2 separate regions of the Homo sapiens genome follow, and region 2 is linked to region 1. Evidence: fine-mapped QTL for protein levels in blood plasma. A gene starts in region 1. The other region holds a variant in brackets. All regions are shown on one strand. Distances are from middle to middle.

What was found. PIP is the posterior inclusion probability: the model's chance that the variant is causal. The UK Biobank Pharma Proteomics Project read protein levels with antibody pairs (Olink). The fine-mapping took linkage between variants from a reference panel, not from the people measured, so its PIPs are less certain.
Region 2: its variant is fine-mapped to the plasma level of the TDRKH protein (UK Biobank, PIP above 0.99).

The regions. Positions count from the first base shown.
Region 1 is chr1:151,787,502-151,796,172 of GRCh38, reverse strand. It overlaps TDRKH (tudor and KH domain containing), which reads left to right and starts at 5,673. Exons shown (of 13, transcript NM_001083965.2): 1 at 5,673-5,793. TDRKH-AS1 (TDRKH antisense RNA 1) reads right to left here and starts at 5,424. Exons shown (of 2, transcript NR_146292.1): 1 at 4,928-5,424; 2 at 1,771-2,358. RefSeq lists a silencer at 5,729-5,988.
Region 2 is chr1:151,768,410-151,777,106 of GRCh38, reverse strand. OAZ3 (ornithine decarboxylase antizyme 3) reads right to left here. Exons shown (of 5, transcript NM_016178.2): 4 at 6,850-6,935; 5 at 5,777-6,030. The coding sequence ends at 5,888. TDRKH (tudor and KH domain containing) reads left to right here. Exons shown (of 13, transcript NM_001083965.2): 7 at 508-668; 8 at 839-1,011; 9 at 1,223-1,287; 10 at 1,564-1,715; 11 at 1,941-2,042; 12 at 2,301-2,397; 13 at 2,603-3,613. The coding sequence ends at 2,655. Among named protein-coding and RNA genes, the nearest start is that of OAZ3, 6.1 kb to the right of the region's middle. RefSeq lists enhancers at 6,646-7,340, 7,341-8,037. The variant C/T (reference allele first, on the strand shown) is at 4,725.

The DNA.
Region 1 (8,671 bases):
GAGGCTTAAGTGGGGAGGAGGGGGTGACTCCTACGATGGGCAACAGGAGAGATGAGTGCTGTTTTTCAGACTCAGACAGCTGAACAGCACTTGAATGAATCATTCGTATGTTGTACAGGGAAGGAACTCTGTGGGCAGCCAAGGCTCCGGAGCCAGGCTCCTTGTATTTCAGAGCCCCTCACTGCCCAGATCCCTAGCTAAGATCTTCTTTCCTGCTTCAGTTTACTAAAGGGAACACCTGCTCACTGAACCCTCTGGGAAACCCAGAACTTATCTTAACTCACTCCACCTAATGCCTCCCACAGCCTGTTCAGAACACCCTTCAGGGAAAGAGAATAGACTCTTAGGACTGGAGATGAGAATAAAGAAATTACAATTCACTCAATCCCAGCATCTCACAATTCAATCTTTCAATCCTGATTTGGGATCTGAGAGGAGAAATGAGATGACAAATCCCAAATGTACAGTGACTTGAGGGTGAGTTTGGCATCAGCTCACTCGAAGTTATTTCTTCTGCTCCCCAACCTCCCTACCCAGCAAGTTAGAATTCAATCTGATTTTAAAATAAGATCAAATAAATCTCATTTTAAAATAAGATCATAGTGGCTCACACCTGTAATCCCAGCACTTTGGGATGCTGAGGCAGGTGGATCACCTGAGATCAGGAGTTCAAGATCAGCCTGGGCAACATGGTGAGACCCCATCTCTACTAAAAATACAAAAATTAGCCGGGTGTGGTGGTGTGCACCTATAATCCCAGCTATTCGGGAGGCTGAGGCAGGAAGATCATTTGAACCCGGGAGGCAGAGGTTGCAGTGAGCCAAGATCGTGCCACTGCACTCCAGCCTGGATGATAGAGTGAGACTCCATCTCAAAAAAAAAAAAAAAAAATCCGGGAAAAGTGATGCCACCTGGCTTTTCACTGCTCTGATTAAGAAATTCCTCCTGTGAGGCTGAGCACACTGACTCACTCCTGTAATCCCAGCACTTTGGGAGGCTAAGGCAGGTGGATGCCTTGAGCCCAGGAGCTGGAGACCAGCCTGGGCAACATGGTGAAACCCCATCTCTGCTAAAAAGACAAAAATTAGCCGGGTGTGGTGGTGCATGTCTGTAGTCTCAGCTACTTGGGAGGCTGAGGCAGGAGGATCGCTTGAGCCCGGGAGGTGGAGGTTGCAGTGAGTAGAGATCATGCCATTGCCCCAAGCCTGGGCAACAGAGCAAGACTCTGTCTTAAAAAAGAAATAAATTCCTCTTGTGGTTTAACTATAAAGTGTAACCCCCTTTTTGGACTTCATTTCCTCTTTTTTGCCCATCCCACCTTCACTGGAGCTAGAAGAAGATGGACCCATAAAGTAGGTCTGTATTTTTATAGCAACACTGGACACATTCTTCCTTGGATTTGAACTACCATTTTACTTTTTTTAAAGTAAAAATAGCTATAGCAATCAAGGCACTCAATACCTAGGAATAATTTTAATAAGAAGTATGTAAATTCTACATAATGAAAACTAAAATTCTACTGATGGGGTACCAATGACTTGAATGTATAGGAAGATAGGAAGATTCTTATCATACATTCTCCTTTAGATAATCTAAAAATATGTGATTCCAGCCAAAATAACAGTAACAGAATAGAAGAGTAAATTATGGTTCAATATAGCCTCACAATATTATACCACACAGTAGTCAGAATGAAGGGACTAAAACTATACACAATATGGCTGAATCTCACAGAAATAATTTGAACAAAGGAAGCCAGACACAAAAGAGTACATACTCTGTGATTCTCTTTATATAAAAAGCAAGAACAGGCAAAATTAGTTTATGGTATCAGGAGTCAGAAGAGTGGTTGTCCTTGAGAAGAGCAGTGACTGAGAGGGAACACACAAGTGGCTTCTGGGGCACTAGCAATGTTCTGTTTCTTGATCTGCTGCTGGTTACACAAATGTATTCCATTTGTGAAAATTCATCAAGATATATACTTGTCATTTGTGCATTTTTCTGCATGTATATTATAAATTAATTTTTTAAATTGTGGTAAAAAAAAAAACCATAATGTATACAATTTAAAAAATTTTTAGGCCGGGCGCAGTGGCTCATGCCTGTAATCCCAGCACTTTGGGAGGCCGAGGCGGGCGGATCACCAGGTCAGGAGACCGAGACCATCCTGGCTAACACGGTGAAACCCCGTCTCTACTAAAAATACAAAAAATTAGCCAGGTGTGGTGGTGGGCACCTGTAGTCCCAGCTATTCGGGAGGCTGAGGCAGGAGAATCGCTTGAACCAGGGAGTTGGAGGTTCCAGTGAGCCGAGATCGTGCCACTGCACTCCAGCCTGGGTGACAGAGTGAGACTCCGTCTAAAAAAAAAAAAAAAAAAATTAATGATCAATGGAACAAAATGAAAAAAATCCAGAAATAGACCCAAATACATATGGCAATTTGGTATTATAAAGGTAGCATTCAAAAACAATGGAGAAAACATGGGTTATTCAATAAGAAGGATTTGAATAAAACAAAACAAAATTGGATCTCTATCTCACACCTTTACACCAAAATAAATTCCAGATGAATCAAATATTTACATATACAAAGACACTATCAAAGTACTTTTTAAAAAAACATAGGAGCTTTAAGAATAATCTTAAATAGTGGGAGACTTTACTAAAAATTATATGAAACACAGAAGTTGGCCAGGCACAGTGGCTCACGCCTGTAATACCAATACTTTGGGAGGCTAAGGCGGGTGGATCACTTGAGGCCAGGAGTTTGAGACCAGTCTGGCCAACATGGCAAAACTACTCCGAGTCTACTAAAAAATACAAAAATTACCCAGGTATGGTGGTACATGCCTGTAATCCCAACTACTCAGGAGGCTGAGGCACGAGAATCTCTTCAACCTGGGAAGCAGAGGTTACAGTGGGCCAAGATCATGCCACTGCACTCCAGCCTGGGCGACAGAATGAGACTCTGCCTCAAAAAAAGAAAGAAAGAAACCCAGAAATTATCAAAGAAAATATTGATAAATTCAATTACATAAAAATTTTTAACATTTGCAAAGAATAACCATAAACAGGCTGAGGGCAATGGCTCAGGCCTGTAATCCTAGCACTTTGGGAGGCTGAGGCAGGCTGATCACCTGAGGTCAGGAGTTGGAGACCAGCCTCAAAATATGCAATATACATAGAACAAACTTGGAAAAGGGAAAATACTTGTTATATGTATAAACAATATACATAGAACAAACTGGGAAAAGGGACATACTTTTTTTTTTTTTTTTTGGAGATGGGGTCTCGCTCTGTTGCCCAGGCTGGAGTGCAGTGGCAATCTCGGCTCACTGCAACCACCGCTTCCCCAGTTCAAGTGATTCTCCTGCCTCAGTCTCCCAAGTAGCTGGGATTACAAGCGCTTGCCACCATAACCGGCTAATTTTTGTATTTTTAATAAAGACGGGGTTTCAGCATGTTGGCCAGGCTGGTCTTGAACTCCTGACCTCAGGTGATTAGCCTGCCTCAGCCTCCCAAAGTGCTGGGATTACAGGCGTGACCCACCACACCTGGCCGGGGAAAATACTTTTAACTTATATACAAACAGCAAGTATTAAGAAATGACCCTATAACCAATAAAAATATGAACAGAATATAAAAACAGAGAATTTACAAAAAAATTGCCATTTAAATATATTAAAAGATGCTCAACTTTACTTATAAGAGCAATGAAATTTTATCTTGCAATGAGATAGCATTTACACTATCAGATTGTCAAAAATCAGGAAGTTTAACAGCACCAGTGTGCTATCAAACAGGTTCTTTTCATACATTGCTGACAGGAGACAAAATTGGTAAAATTTCCAGGGAAGGCAATTTGGTAATACTAACTAAAATCATTTTCAAAAATTGCTGGTGGGATTAAAATTATAAAAATCTTTGTGGGAGGAAGGGAATTTACAAAATTTTATCTATCCAAATGAAAAAACAATGCACACATTTCTTTAACTTGGCACTTGCATTTCTAAGTATTTATCATACACATATGCAAGAGGGAAATGAAGTATCCTTGCATATCAATCAAATGTTAAAGGACTGGTTAAATATATCTTCATATATCCCTCAGGCATACTATGAAACTATCACTATGAGGCAGATACGTATATGCTGCTACGGAAACATTTCCAGACTGTATCAAAGAAAGTTGCAAAATAGTATGTATGTTATCAACTGGGTTAAAAAAATATATGTGTGTGTATATATATATACACTTTATATATTACACATATACACACGTTAACTATAGAATATCTTGTGAAATTTTTCACAAGAAACTGGTAACCCTAGTTGCCTTGAAGGAAGGAAAATTTATTCACTATAATAACCTTGTTTCTTCTGAATTTTGTAGAATGTAAATGTATTACTTATTCAAAACGCATACACATTTTTATATTAATAGAAAGCAAAACCTGAGGCCCAAAGGCATCTGCCTAATTGACAAAAGATACAACCTTGCGTTCTTTCAGCAAATATTTATTGCTCATCACCTGCCAGGTATTGTGATGGAAGCTAGTGCGGAAGATCCCCCAATGACCAGGATCGCCCGACCCCTGTTCCCAGGGTGAGCCCCTAGCGCGGAGCGGGGACAGGGTGGACCGAGTAGGGCGCAGTGCTGGTCTCGCGAGGCTCCCTGCCCCACGGAGGCAGTAGCAGGACCCAACCGTTCCTAACCGTCCAGGGACCAGGACAGCGTCTGGAATAAAATCTTCCAAAGCAAACTTCCGCCTGCGGAGACCCGCTCCCTTCCTCGCCCCCACAGAAACGCCCCCCGCCACCACCCCCTCCCCCGGCGTAGGCCTTCACGCTGTCGCCTCGACCCGTTTCCTCGAATCCCCAGGGAAGGGTGGGCCCCTGGCGCCCCTATGGCCCGCCGCCCCCTTACCACCGCGGTCGGAGCCCGGGTCTCACTCTCCTGCCGCTGTTTCGGGCCACACCGTGTGTCCGTGCCTCCGCAAAGGAATAGAAGAGTGGGTCCTCGCTCTCTGCGGCGCACCGCTTGTCCCTTGACTTCCTGTCCATCTACAAAGCCTATTTCATGTTTTCCAGAAAGAAAACGTTTTCCGTGTCTCTTGAGTCCTCATCGCCATATGCGGGGCGGGACCGATCTATGCAAAAGATCGCAAGAGAAAACTGATGGAGCATCGCCCATCATGAGGCTGCTCTCCCGATGGTCACTGAGTTGTGTTGTGGCACTGTCTTTGTACAAAGACACCAATTTTTGCGAACGGTGCCACTCATGATTCAACGCTCTCATGCCTCGGTCCCAGCTGCTGGAGCGCAGATTTTCCTCCAAGGGTTAGAAGATAGAAAACTCCTCGGTAATTGGCCTAGAGGTGGTCTGCGAGGACGCCGGGAAGCTTGTAATTGGCTGTTTAATTCTCAGCAGGTGCGGTCTCAGTTAACAACATCTGCTTTTCCTGGATCTTATTGGCTGACAGGGTGGGCCTGCTTTGGATTCCATCCGGGTAATTGGGCAGCGGCTAGCAGCAGCCACGTCGCTCAGGGGCAGCCCGCGGAAGGATTGGTTGTGACGGGAGAAGGCGATTGGTCGGACTGCGAGCAGGGTGTTGATTGGTGCTGTCGGGCTGCGGGGGCGGGGAAGTGGCGGCTGAAGCGCCGCCGGCGGGGCTCACTGTGGTGGTGTGAGTGGGAGGCGGCGGCGCTGGTGGCTGCAGCTGGGGTGAGGCGCGAGGCGGCGCACTCGACGGCTGACTGGAGCAGCGGTAAAGGCGAGGATGGAGACCGAAGGTTTGGGGAGTGGGAAAGACAGGGTCATGGGCAGCCCTGGCCACTAGGAGACGGAAATGCGGGAGCGAGGGAAGGGAGGGGTCTGGCGTGCCCCGGGGCGAGGGAAGGATGTGGGGCGCAGCGGGGGAGTCAGAGCCCTGGGCTGTGAGACGCCGCTCGGGGGCAACTTGACCCACTGGGAACTCGTAACTGTATCTGAGGAAGATGCTCCAGTCACCCGCTTACGCCACAACGGACCCGGTGCGGGAGCGTTTGTGTTTGCCCTGAGTCAGTTCAGACTCTTCCACTGGGCCTTTTTGAGACTGAGAGCTGCCATCCGTATATCACTTTGCCTTTAACTTTCCCCAGCTTTTTCTTTAGTTATCGCTAATAGGATGGCTGTTTACAGTCGTCAGAATAATACATTGGGGTTTTTGTTTTTCCAGTATCCCTCATTCCTTAATCCAGGTATCATCGTGGGGGTTGGCTGGAGACCCCTATTTCAAAGACTGACTTTTAGACCCTTTCCTTGTTTTGAGAGAAAGGGGTTGACACTTTTTTTTTTCTCGTGAATTTAAAATAAACGTACCAAGGATGAGAACATTGAGCTGCTTCGATTCAAGCATGTCACCATGTTGTAGGTTCTTTGTAGGTTCTGGTTATTAGGAGATACTGGAATGAGTTATCTATGCTTTCATGGAGCTAACAATGTGATTTGACTTCTCATCACATCCTATTTGACTCCTGTCATTTTAAATGATAAAGTAAGCCTTAGCGATGCATATCAGATAGTTTTTGGCAATTGTTCAATACAAATGTCAGGAAATTTCAAAGTTAGCTTTCACTGAAAACCATTATCTAACCACATTCCTCACTGAACAATGATCCTCATCTTCTCTTCTTAGCTTCCCCTAGAAACTGTGGTCTTAAGTTCTAGTATTTTCCTCCTTCCCATTCAATTTTTAAGTAATAAAATCAAACACAAGCTAGCAGTCAGTACTATGCAGTTATCCCCGTTTACATTATATTATTTTCCATTTCTCTTTAAGAGAAACTTATAGCTGAAAGGATATGAAAATTGTGAACAAAACCATAGTGACAGATCAAGTAGAGTCTCATTTTTTGAGACATCAGCTGATAACTCAATTAGCACAAATTCATTTGTAATGTTTGAAGAGGAGTTAGTGAAATTTACCTTTTGCTTCAAATAGAAGTCGGCCAAAACCGCACCTATAATCTCAGCTACGCCGGACGACTGCGGGAGTTCAAGGCTGCAGTGAGCTATTATCATTCACTGCATTCCATCCTGGGTGACAGACCAAGGCTCTGTCTCTAAATAAACAACAACAAACTCTCCAATTCATCTGTTCTCCATCTCCATCATTGACACCTGGACTAGGCCCTGATTGGTCTCCTGCAGCCACGGTTGCTGCCTTCAATTCATTCTCCTCACCACGGACACAGATGTTAATCAAGAATGACAAGCATGGCATGTGTTATCAAGGGATATTGGGGATTCTGTGGAAACCCATAGCAATGTAATTCAACCCAGTGTAGGGGGTCGAGATTGAGGGGCCTTGGCTGCAGAGACCCCTCTGCACTTGATCTTGATAGTGTCAGAACTGGAAAACAAAAGTGCTGCTAGTCCTTTGGGCCTCTGTAAAGAGGTGTGATTATGACTGGCCATCAAAACAGACTTATTTCTATTGCACACTGTATTGTGTAGAAATGACTAATGAGCTGTGTGATCTTAGATCAATCCTTTTCTATCCCTTAGCCGCAGTTTCCCAAATTGCAACGTTATTAATGGAATCAAATAAGTTCTGTAGTCCCTTCTAGTTATAAAATCTTGTGATTTCTATGCCCCATAAGCATCAATTATGGCCAGTTTTTAAAAGCAGACAGCATGAAAATACAGATCCAGTTTATTCTTGTTCACAGGGCTAGATTTCAGTTTCCCAAAGCCCTTAAGACCTAAAGACTCCTGCCTGTCAAGATCTTCCTTGCCAGACAGGAAACTCCATGAAGGCAGCTGCCAAATCTATCTTGACTGTTGTGTCCCGAGGGTCAAGCACACATCAGAATTCGATATTTATTGGCTTGAATAAATGTCCATTTAGTGCAGTTCATTCATGTAGTATAGGTTTGCGGAAGAAAAGTGAGTTGTATTTTAATGAGATGATTTTCAACTATACACCATCTAAGAAATAAACCTTAAGGTTCTAGCTACTTTCAACTGTCGCATTGACCAAGAATTTATACAGTTGTCCCTCCCTTCGTTATTTGCAGGGGATTGGTTCCAGGAACCCTGCAGAACCCAAATCCATAGATGCTCATGTCCCTTGTATAAGATGCATATTATTTGTATATAACCTACACACATCTTGCCCTATACTTTTTTTTTTTAAACCCCTTGAGACAAATTCTCGCTCTGTTGCCCAGGGTGGAGTGCAGTGGTGTCATCAGTTTACTGCAGCTTCCACCTCCTGGGCTCAAGCCATCTCCCACCTCGGCCTCCTGAGTAGCTGGAACTACAGGTGTGCAACACCACGCCTAGCTAATTTTTTTTTTTTTTTTTTTTTTTTTTTTTTTGTAGAAACAGAGTCTCACTATGTTGCCCAGGCTAGTCTTGAATACTTGGTCTCAAGCAGTCCTCCTACCTTAGCCTCTCAAAGTGCTGGGATTAACAGGCATGAGCCACTGTGCCCAGCCTGTTTTGGTGTTTATGTTTCCTAGACTATGAATATTTCCAAGTAGAAATTCTTCTTCCTCCTTCTGTCCCCAACGTGCTCAGCACACAAGAAAGAGCTAGCACTATTTAACCAAGATGCATTAATAATGGAAACAAGCTTTGCACTTTAGTGGTCATATAAGAAAATACCTAAGCCAGGCGCAGTGG
Region 2 (8,697 bases), 19 kb after region 1:
ATTACTGTTTTTAAAAATCATCACTATTGAAAAGGCTGTGAGCTTTCTCTTCTGTACATAGGTTTTGGCGTGGGCAAAGAGGACCTGGATTCCCAAGAAGCTCACAGACTTGTCCAGGGTCATGTAAAGAGTCAGTGGTAGAATGGGATCTGGAACAGGTCCATGTCCGTCACTGTCCATGTAAAGATTGCTGTCCATATACCTTTTTACTGATCCATGCTGTAGCTAGCATATGGAGGTTTACCTTCTGTATAATTGGTGACCGATTTGACTATGTAGCACATGACAAAGAATGTAAGCTGTTATTACTCAGTTACATGGAAAGGTACAAAGGATAGCTTAGTATCTTTCTTTAGGATATTCTTGTTTGATTCATCCAGTTGCCTCTCCTGCCATTTTAAAATGGTAACAGCCATTGGTATTTGTACCTCTCACTACCCTGGTTAGTCTCTTCATTCCAACCAGAGATGGGTCTGATGTGGCCACCATCCTTATCTCTGTGTTCAGTCCCCAGTCCTGACTTCAGTTTTCATGCTGATGAGTACCTAGAAGTCTACGTTTCTGCTTCTGAGCACCCTAACCACTTCTGGATCCAGATCGTTGGCTCCCGCAGCCTGCAATTGGATAAGCTTGTCAATGAGATGACCCAGCACTATGAGAATAGTGTGGTGAGTTGCCATAGGGACAGGGCTGGGGTTTAATGAAAAGAAGGCATATCTTTTTCATTGTACTCTTCCTTTCCCTGTGGAGCAACTACTTTTCTTTCTTCCTCCTGCAATTCTGTTTATGAGCCTACCACTTTGTAACTCTCTGCCTTTCTCCTCCTCCCCACATACAGCCTGAAGACTTGACTGTGCATGTAGGAGACATTGTAGCAGCACCTTTACCTACAAATGGTTCCTGGTATCGAGCCCGGGTCCTCGGCACCTTGGAGAATGGGAACTTGGACCTCTATTTTGTTGACTTTGGAGATAATGGAGATTGCCCACTGAAGGACCTCAGGGCTCTCAGGTCAGTGCTGAGGTCAGCTCAATCCCAACTGCTGACTCAGTTCTGGCCATAGGGTGGTGAGCTGTTGGCAGTTGTCAGGGGGATTTGGAAGGGAACCTGTTTACAGAGAGCAGATGGTTATCGTCTCATGTTAGTTGGTTCTTTCTGAAAGCAGCAATGTAAGAAGATGTTTTTGGCCCCAGGATTCTAATTTTAGTTTCTTTTACTTCAGGAGTGACTTCCTAAGCCTTCCATTTCAAGCAATAGAATGTAGTCTGGCACGGATTGCTCCCTCAGGTAAATTGGTCATGCCATCTATTGAGCTTACCTCCAAATAGAATAACTTCATACAGTTCATTGGAAGGAATTCTCACATTCCCAGGCTTTTTGAATTCTGGGGACTCAGGTGCCTTTTCCTCACCAGCACTAGCAGCAGCCAGAAACTTGCCTGGCAGACCCAACCCAACCAGAGAAGACACAGGTGCCTTCCTGAGTAGAAAAGGGTAGTTCCAACTTCCCTCCAGGGTATAAGCCCCACCCCTATCAGCAGTAACCCCTACAATCTTTTGCCAGGTGACCAGTGGGAAGAGGAAGCTTTGGATGAGTTTGATAGACTCACTCATTGTGCTGACTGGAAGCCTCTGGTAGCCAAGATCTCTAGCTATGTCCAGACTGGGATCTCAACTTGGCCAAAGATCTACTTATATGATACTAGCAATGGGAAGGTAAGACTGGCATTCACTCACTGCTTGCCATATCTTCAGTATATTTATAGCCTAATTTACTTTTTCTTCCTCAGAAACCCTTATCTGATATTACTCTTACTGTAAGATCCTTCTCACCATCTCACCAAAGGAATGTCTTTAAAGTATCAGTCCTTCTGCCTTGTTTCCTCAAATTTGCCCTTGCTTACTGAGAGAACATCATTCCCTTTTCATTTTTCTTCTCAGAAACTTGATATTGGGCTAGAATTAGTACACAAAGGATACGCAATTGAGCTTCCTGAAGACATAGAAGAAAACAGAGCTGTCCCAGACATGTTGAAGGACATGGTGAGCTATTGTAGTTATATAGGGTGCTGCTTCCAGGCAAATCTAGCACATAGACACTAAGGGCTTCTAGTCCTGATACTGTGTTAGCTTTCCTAAGGACTTTGAGCTCCTCCAGTAGTTGACCAAAGGAGCATTTTGTCCCTCTTGGTAGCCAAATGCAACTGCCTTAACCAGGTCCTATGAGAAGAATGAAAGGGTGGCCTCTTTTTTCCTAAAAGCCAACATGTTCCTCCTTTTTTCCTGTTTTCATCCACTCAGGCCACAGAAACAGATGCCTCTCTCAGCACGTTGCTCACTGAGACCAAAAAGAGCTCTGGAGAGATAACACATACCCTGTCCTGCCTCAGCTTATCAGGTACAAGCAGTATTTCCTCCCTAGAGCATCTTTGGAGATTAACTTTTCTCATTCAGTCTTTCCAGAGTAGGGAGGTTAATTGAAGGCTTGGTTCCTAGTCAGGTCATTGAGTACCAAGAGGTCCATTTTTCTTTTGAGCCTCGCTGGCATTGCCTGCTAGAATAGGGCAGTGTCTAACTTTCTCCTTCTTATTTATCTTCAATAGAAGCTGCTTCCATGTCTGGTGATGATAACCTTGAAGATGACTACTTACTCTGAAGTCTGGGCTTCAGTTTGCTCAGCCATCTGCTTTGCTGTGTGAGTGCAGCTATCATCTATCTGTAGCAACAGGAAAGTAATGAGGGCGACAGTGGGGCACTTGCTTTGATTCCCTCTTTCCCATGCCCTGTCTTAATATACTTCTCTGCAGCTGCTTTCCTGCAGCTTAACTTGCTCTCAGATTGAGCACTTTCAAGCTTTTTGTGTATTTCTGTCTTTGGCAGGATTTGGCATAGGAATTGGTGCATGGAGGAGAGGAGTGTATGATAAAGGATCCATGCAGTCCTTCCTTTATTACACATATAGTCTGGCTTGCTGTGGACCAAATTAATATTCTCCTCCCATCAGACTACAAAAAAATTGGACTACCACGCTACAAGTGTGTCTCCCCCATTCCACCTCCGGATCCCTCCCCAACCCTCCAGTGTTTGAATACTGCTGTGTTACTTCCAGGCCGTTCAACGTCAGGCTCAGTCCCCTCTACCAGTCATGATTCACATTACTACTAGGCTGTATCCTTTTTGAGGCTGGGAAACAGTCAGGCTTTCGTCATTGGAAGTGATTCTGCAGACTTCTGACTCACCTTATCAGGTGACTCTGGTTAAGGAAAGCTTTTGAGTGGTGAACTCAAAGACTCCAGTTGAATCAGGAGGCAAAGGCAAAAATTAGCATAATTATATTTAAAAGCCTCAGGAAGTGGGAAGAGAATACTGCCTCCCAGCCTCAATTGCTGATATGTTATTGGAGACAGGCTTTTGAAACTGCTCCAGCTATTTCTCTGTAACCTTTAGTTAAAATATAAGTAGAAAGGAGACAGGAGGCTCAGGAAATTTTCTAAATTGCTAGTATAATATCTATATGTATACACACATATACACCCGTGGAGAGAGAGGAAGAGTATACAGTCCTGTTTGAATCATTTGGAGGATTTTTTTGCTGAATAAAGTTCTCAAGAAAATTTTCTAAAACCAAATTCTGATTGAATCACAAGGTGGAAGCAGGCTGTGAGCCTAAATCTGGTGAAAACTGCCAACTGCCTCACAGAAAGGATCACATCTATGAAACAAGTGTCCCTCCCATATACACATTCATATTCTTTCTCTAAAGTCACTTCAGAAATAACCATTCACTGGCTGGGCACGGTAGCTCACACCTGTAATCCCAGCGCTTTGGGAGGCTAAGGCAGGCAGATTACTTGAGGCCAACATGGTGAAACCCTGTCTCTACTAAAAATACAAAAAATTAGCCAGGCATGGTGGCATGCACCTGTTGTCCCAGCTGCGTGGGAGGCTGAGGCAGGAGAATTGCTTGAACCTGGGAGGTGGAGGTTGCAGTGAGCTGAGATCATGCCACTGCACTCCAGCCTGGGTGACAGAGAGAGACTCTGTCTCAAAAAAATACAAAAATACAAAATACAAAAATTAGCTGGGCGTGGTGGCAGGCACCTGTAATCCCAGCTATTTGGGAGGCTGAGGCACAAGAATCACTTGAACCTGGGAAGCGGAGGTTGCAGTGAACCCAGATTGCACCACCACACAACCTTGTCTCATAAAAAAAAATTCACTAGGAACCAGAACCAATTTAGGTTTAGGCTGTGTGAGTAAGACCCCACCTATACTATTCAAAAGAAAAGGCCCAGATTAAGATTCTAGAAACCTGGATTCTAGGAGCAGCTCTGGTAAGTAGCTCATGTAGTCTTGGAGGAATCTTTAAGGAGTAGATCTCCACTGTAAACTTTTTGCAAAATTTTAACGTGTTTCCTTATAGCATCTTTCTGACAGTACTGTGAGGCTCAAATGCGAGGCTTGAAGTACTTGAGGTGCTTGAAAGTAAATATAAATGTATAGTAATGTGGATGGTAGAAAAATGGCAAGTGAATTTTTTTTAAGGATAAAGCAAGATAAACTAGAAAATTTAAAACTAGCACATAAGGATGCCTTACACAGGTCTTTTTTTTAAATTTAGGGATTAGTAACGTCTACCTCTATACTACATGGCAACTATATTTTCTCACAACCACAATTCTCAAAATTTATTTTCTCAGAAAAATCTCAGTATTAGCCAGGCAC[C/T]GGTGGCTCACACCTATAATCCCAACACTTTGGGAGGCCGAGGCGGGCAGATTGCTTGAGCTCAGGAGTTCGAGACCAGCCTGGCACCATGCTGAAACCCGTAAATACAAAAAAATTAGCCAGGCATGGTGGTGTGTGCCTGTGGTCCTAGCTACTTGAGAGGCTGAGGTGGGAGGATCGCTTGAGCCCAGGGAAGCAGAGGGTGCAGTGAGTGAGCCAAGATTGCACCACTCCACTCCAGCCTGTGTGACACAGCAAGATGCTGTCTCCAAAAAAAGAAAAGAAAAATCTCAGTCCCAATTAGCAGAAAGGCTCTAGTGAAGGAACAGTTCTGGTGAGTAGTTCAGGTACTCTTGGAGGAATCTTTAAGGAGCTTCCATTTATTTGATGTTTCAGATGTTGCCTGCAATGAACTCGCTGAAGCATGCTCAGCCCTGGAACTGGTGCTACCAGAGTTCCGTAGGGAACCTTTACTCTTTAGAGGTTCCCTGATATAAATCATTCATAAGACTTCCTACCCTGGAAAATGAGTAATGTCTCATTCTTACCTGCAGTTTGTTACTATGTATAAAAGTCTTTTTCTTTAATATGCCTTTAAGTCTTACCTGTTTACAGCCCATTCTGATGGGTTCTTTGTCATTCTGTTAGTATAACCCAGTACTTTTCCTGCTGCCTGGAATGCCCTCTTCTATGTTACCTATTCTGTCCGTTGAGATCCCCCAACTTGGGCCAAAGCCAAGAGATCTATGTGCCTTCTCTGGTTTTCTCCACATCTATAGCACCTCAACTGAAATATATGGATAAAAACAGCCTAACAAAGCTCAGTCTTTCTGAACTAGGAAGTTCACTGATTAGTGCTCAGTAAATGGTTAGAATAAATGGGGAAATAGTTTGGGGCATGGAGGAAGGCAAAGGGAACCAAAAATCCTTAGGTACTTTCCTCCGTAGTTCAGGTCCCTGTGATCTTTTCAGTGAATTTAGCTCTGTTAAGGTGTATATCCCACTCCAGTCAACCCTATTACCCACCCCCCCAAGAAACCGTGAACACTTGATGATTGCACTACCCTTTATTCCTAGGATGGAAAGTGTCCTGAATCACATCCCGGGCCCCTGATTCCATGTGTCAAGGCTTCCAGCCCCTCAAAGCGTTGGAATAAGCATGTTCAAGGAGGCTCACTGGGCAGGTGGCCAACATCCCTTTCAAGGGGATACACCATAAAGATGACATTGTCCAAGGGAGGGAGGGCAGGGTGATCTGGTCTGACCACCTCAAAGCCCATGTAGCTGAAGGCCCGCAGCAGGGCACCTGTGAAAGGATAGAACAAATGATTAGAACATGCTTTAAAACTCAATACATGTATGCCCCCAGATTTGATTTCTTCCACTAGGGAGTGGCCCTGGGAAGCAGTGTAGTGCAGGCATATAGGATGTGCTTTAGTCCAACAGACCTAGGCTCTAACTCTGGTTTTAACACTTGTTCTGTGAGTTAGTCCTGCAGAACTTCAGTTTCCATCTATAGAATTTTCCATTTATAAATCATAGAACCTTCCTCCTCACAGAATTTAAGATGAAATGAGATGTTCATGAAGTGCTTAACACTAGAGATTAGTGAGGTCTACCTATATACTAATACAATGATGACATAGTAAGCTCTGAAATAGTATCTATCACTTATGAATGGTTATTCACCATCCCTTATATCCAACAGAGTTTGAGCTCCTTGAGGCAAGAGGCTATAGTTTCTGTAACATATGCTCCAGGCATCCGGTTAAATATGTCCCCGTTCCCTTGGCCTTATGTCTGACCCTTTCACATTGTAGGTGCTCCATATGTTTGAGATCCATTTTGTCCTGCTGGCCACATCCCTTGAATGGATTCTGTGTAATTTCACCAGTGCTCCTTCAGTCTGGCCCCTAACACCACCTGCAGGGGCTTCCTCAGAGTCCAGTTGTAACTTGATGGAACAAGTTACAACTTCCCACCTTCGTGGTAGGTGGGAAGAAAAGAATCCCTGAAATGCCTGAGGGTGCATTTTTAAAGACAGGGGAAGAGGGTCTCCTATAAAGGAAAAGGAGTTATCCAGCTGCCTCAGCGCGAAAAGCAAGGAAGAACAGCAGATCCCCACCTCTGTCGTTCCGATCATTCTGGAAGTTCACAAACACAGAGTCCACATTTGTCTTCTCTTCCACGTACTCCAGGGTTGCAGTCAAACTAGGAGCCACAGAAAAACAGTTAAAATGTTTGGCCGCTCCCTCTCCCTCTCCCTCTCCGTCTCCGTCTCCCCATGGTCTCCCTCTCCCTCTCTCTCCACGGTCTCCCTCTGATGCCACCAAAGTTGTGAAAGCCGAAGCTGGACTGTACTGCTGCCATCTCGGCTCACTGCAACCTCCCTGCCTGATTCTCCTGCCTCAGCCTGCTGAGTGCCTGGGATTGCAGGCGCGTGCCGCCATGCCTGACTGGTTTTCGTATTTTGGTGGAGACGGGGTTTCGCTGTGTTGGCCGGGCTGGTCTCCAGCTCCTAACCACGAGTGATCTGCCAGCCTCGGCCTCCTGAGGTGCCGGGATTGCAGACGGAGCCTCGTTCACTCAGTGCTCAGTGTTGCCCAGGCTGGAGTGCAGTGGCGTGATCTCGGCTCGCTACAACCTCCACCTCCCAGCCGCCTGCCTTGGCCTCCCAAAGTGCCGAGATTGCAGCCTCTGCCCGGCCACCACCCCGTCTGGGAAGTGAGGAGCGTCTCTGCCTGGCCGCCCATCGTCTGGGATGTGAGGAGCGCCTCTGCCCGGCCGTCATCCCGTCTAGGAAGTGAGGAGCGTCTCCGCCCAGCCGCCCATCGTCTGGGATGTGGGGAGCGCCTCTACCCGGCCACGACCCTGTCTGGGAACTGAGGAGTGTCTCTGCCCAGCCGCGACCCCATCTGGGAGGTGAGGAGCATCTCTGCCCGTCCGCCCTGTCTGAGAAGTGAGGAGCCCCTCCGCCCGGCAGCCGCCTCGTCTGGGAAGTGAGGGGCGTCTCCGCCCGGCAGCTGCCCCGTCCGGGAGGTGGGGGGCAGCCCCCGCCCGGTCAGCCGCCCCGTCTGGGAGGGAGGTGGGGGGCAGTCCCCACCCGGCCACCGCCCCCTCCGGGAGGTGGGGGGTGCGTCTGCCCGGCCGCCCCTTTTGGGAAGTGAGCCCCTCTGCCCGGCCGCCACACCGTCTGGGAGGTGTACCCAAGAGCTCATTGAGAATGGGCCATGATGACGATGGCGGTTTTGTCGAATAGAAAAGGGGGAAATGTGGGGAAAAGATAGAGAAATCAGATTGTTGCTGTGTCTGTGTAGAAAGAAGTAGACATAGGAGACTCCATTTTGTTCTGTACTAAGAAAAATTCTTCTGCCTTGGGATGCTGTTAATCTATAACCTTACCCCCAACCCCATGCTCTCTGAAACGTGCTGTGTCCACTCAGGGTTAAATGGATTAAGGGCGGTGCAAGATGTGCTTTGTTAAACAGATGCTTGAAGGCAGCATGCTCGTTAAGAGTCATCACCACTCCCTAATCTCAAGTACCCAGGGACACAAACACTGCGGAAGGCCGCAGGGTCCTCTGCCTAGGAAAACCAGAGACCCTTGTTCACTTGTTTATCTGCTGACCTTCCCTCCACTATTGTCCTATGACCCTGCCAAATCCCCCTCTGTGAGAAACACCCAAGAATGATCAATAAATACTGGGAAAAAAAAATTTGGCCAACTCAGAATCCAGAAAGACACCTACTTGGAGCAGTAAAAATATTATTGGTCGTTTTCTGCCCTCCACCCACCCAAGCCAGGAAATGAAAGTTGCTAAACTAGTTTTGGTAGATTTTTCTTGGAAGCCAAGAGATTGCACATCACTGGATGTAAGCCACAGAAGGGGTCTGGGGAGAAAGGACTACTGAGATGAACAGCTAGAAAGTACTTCCCGTTATTCAACTATTTCTGGATCTGAGTCCAGCTTCC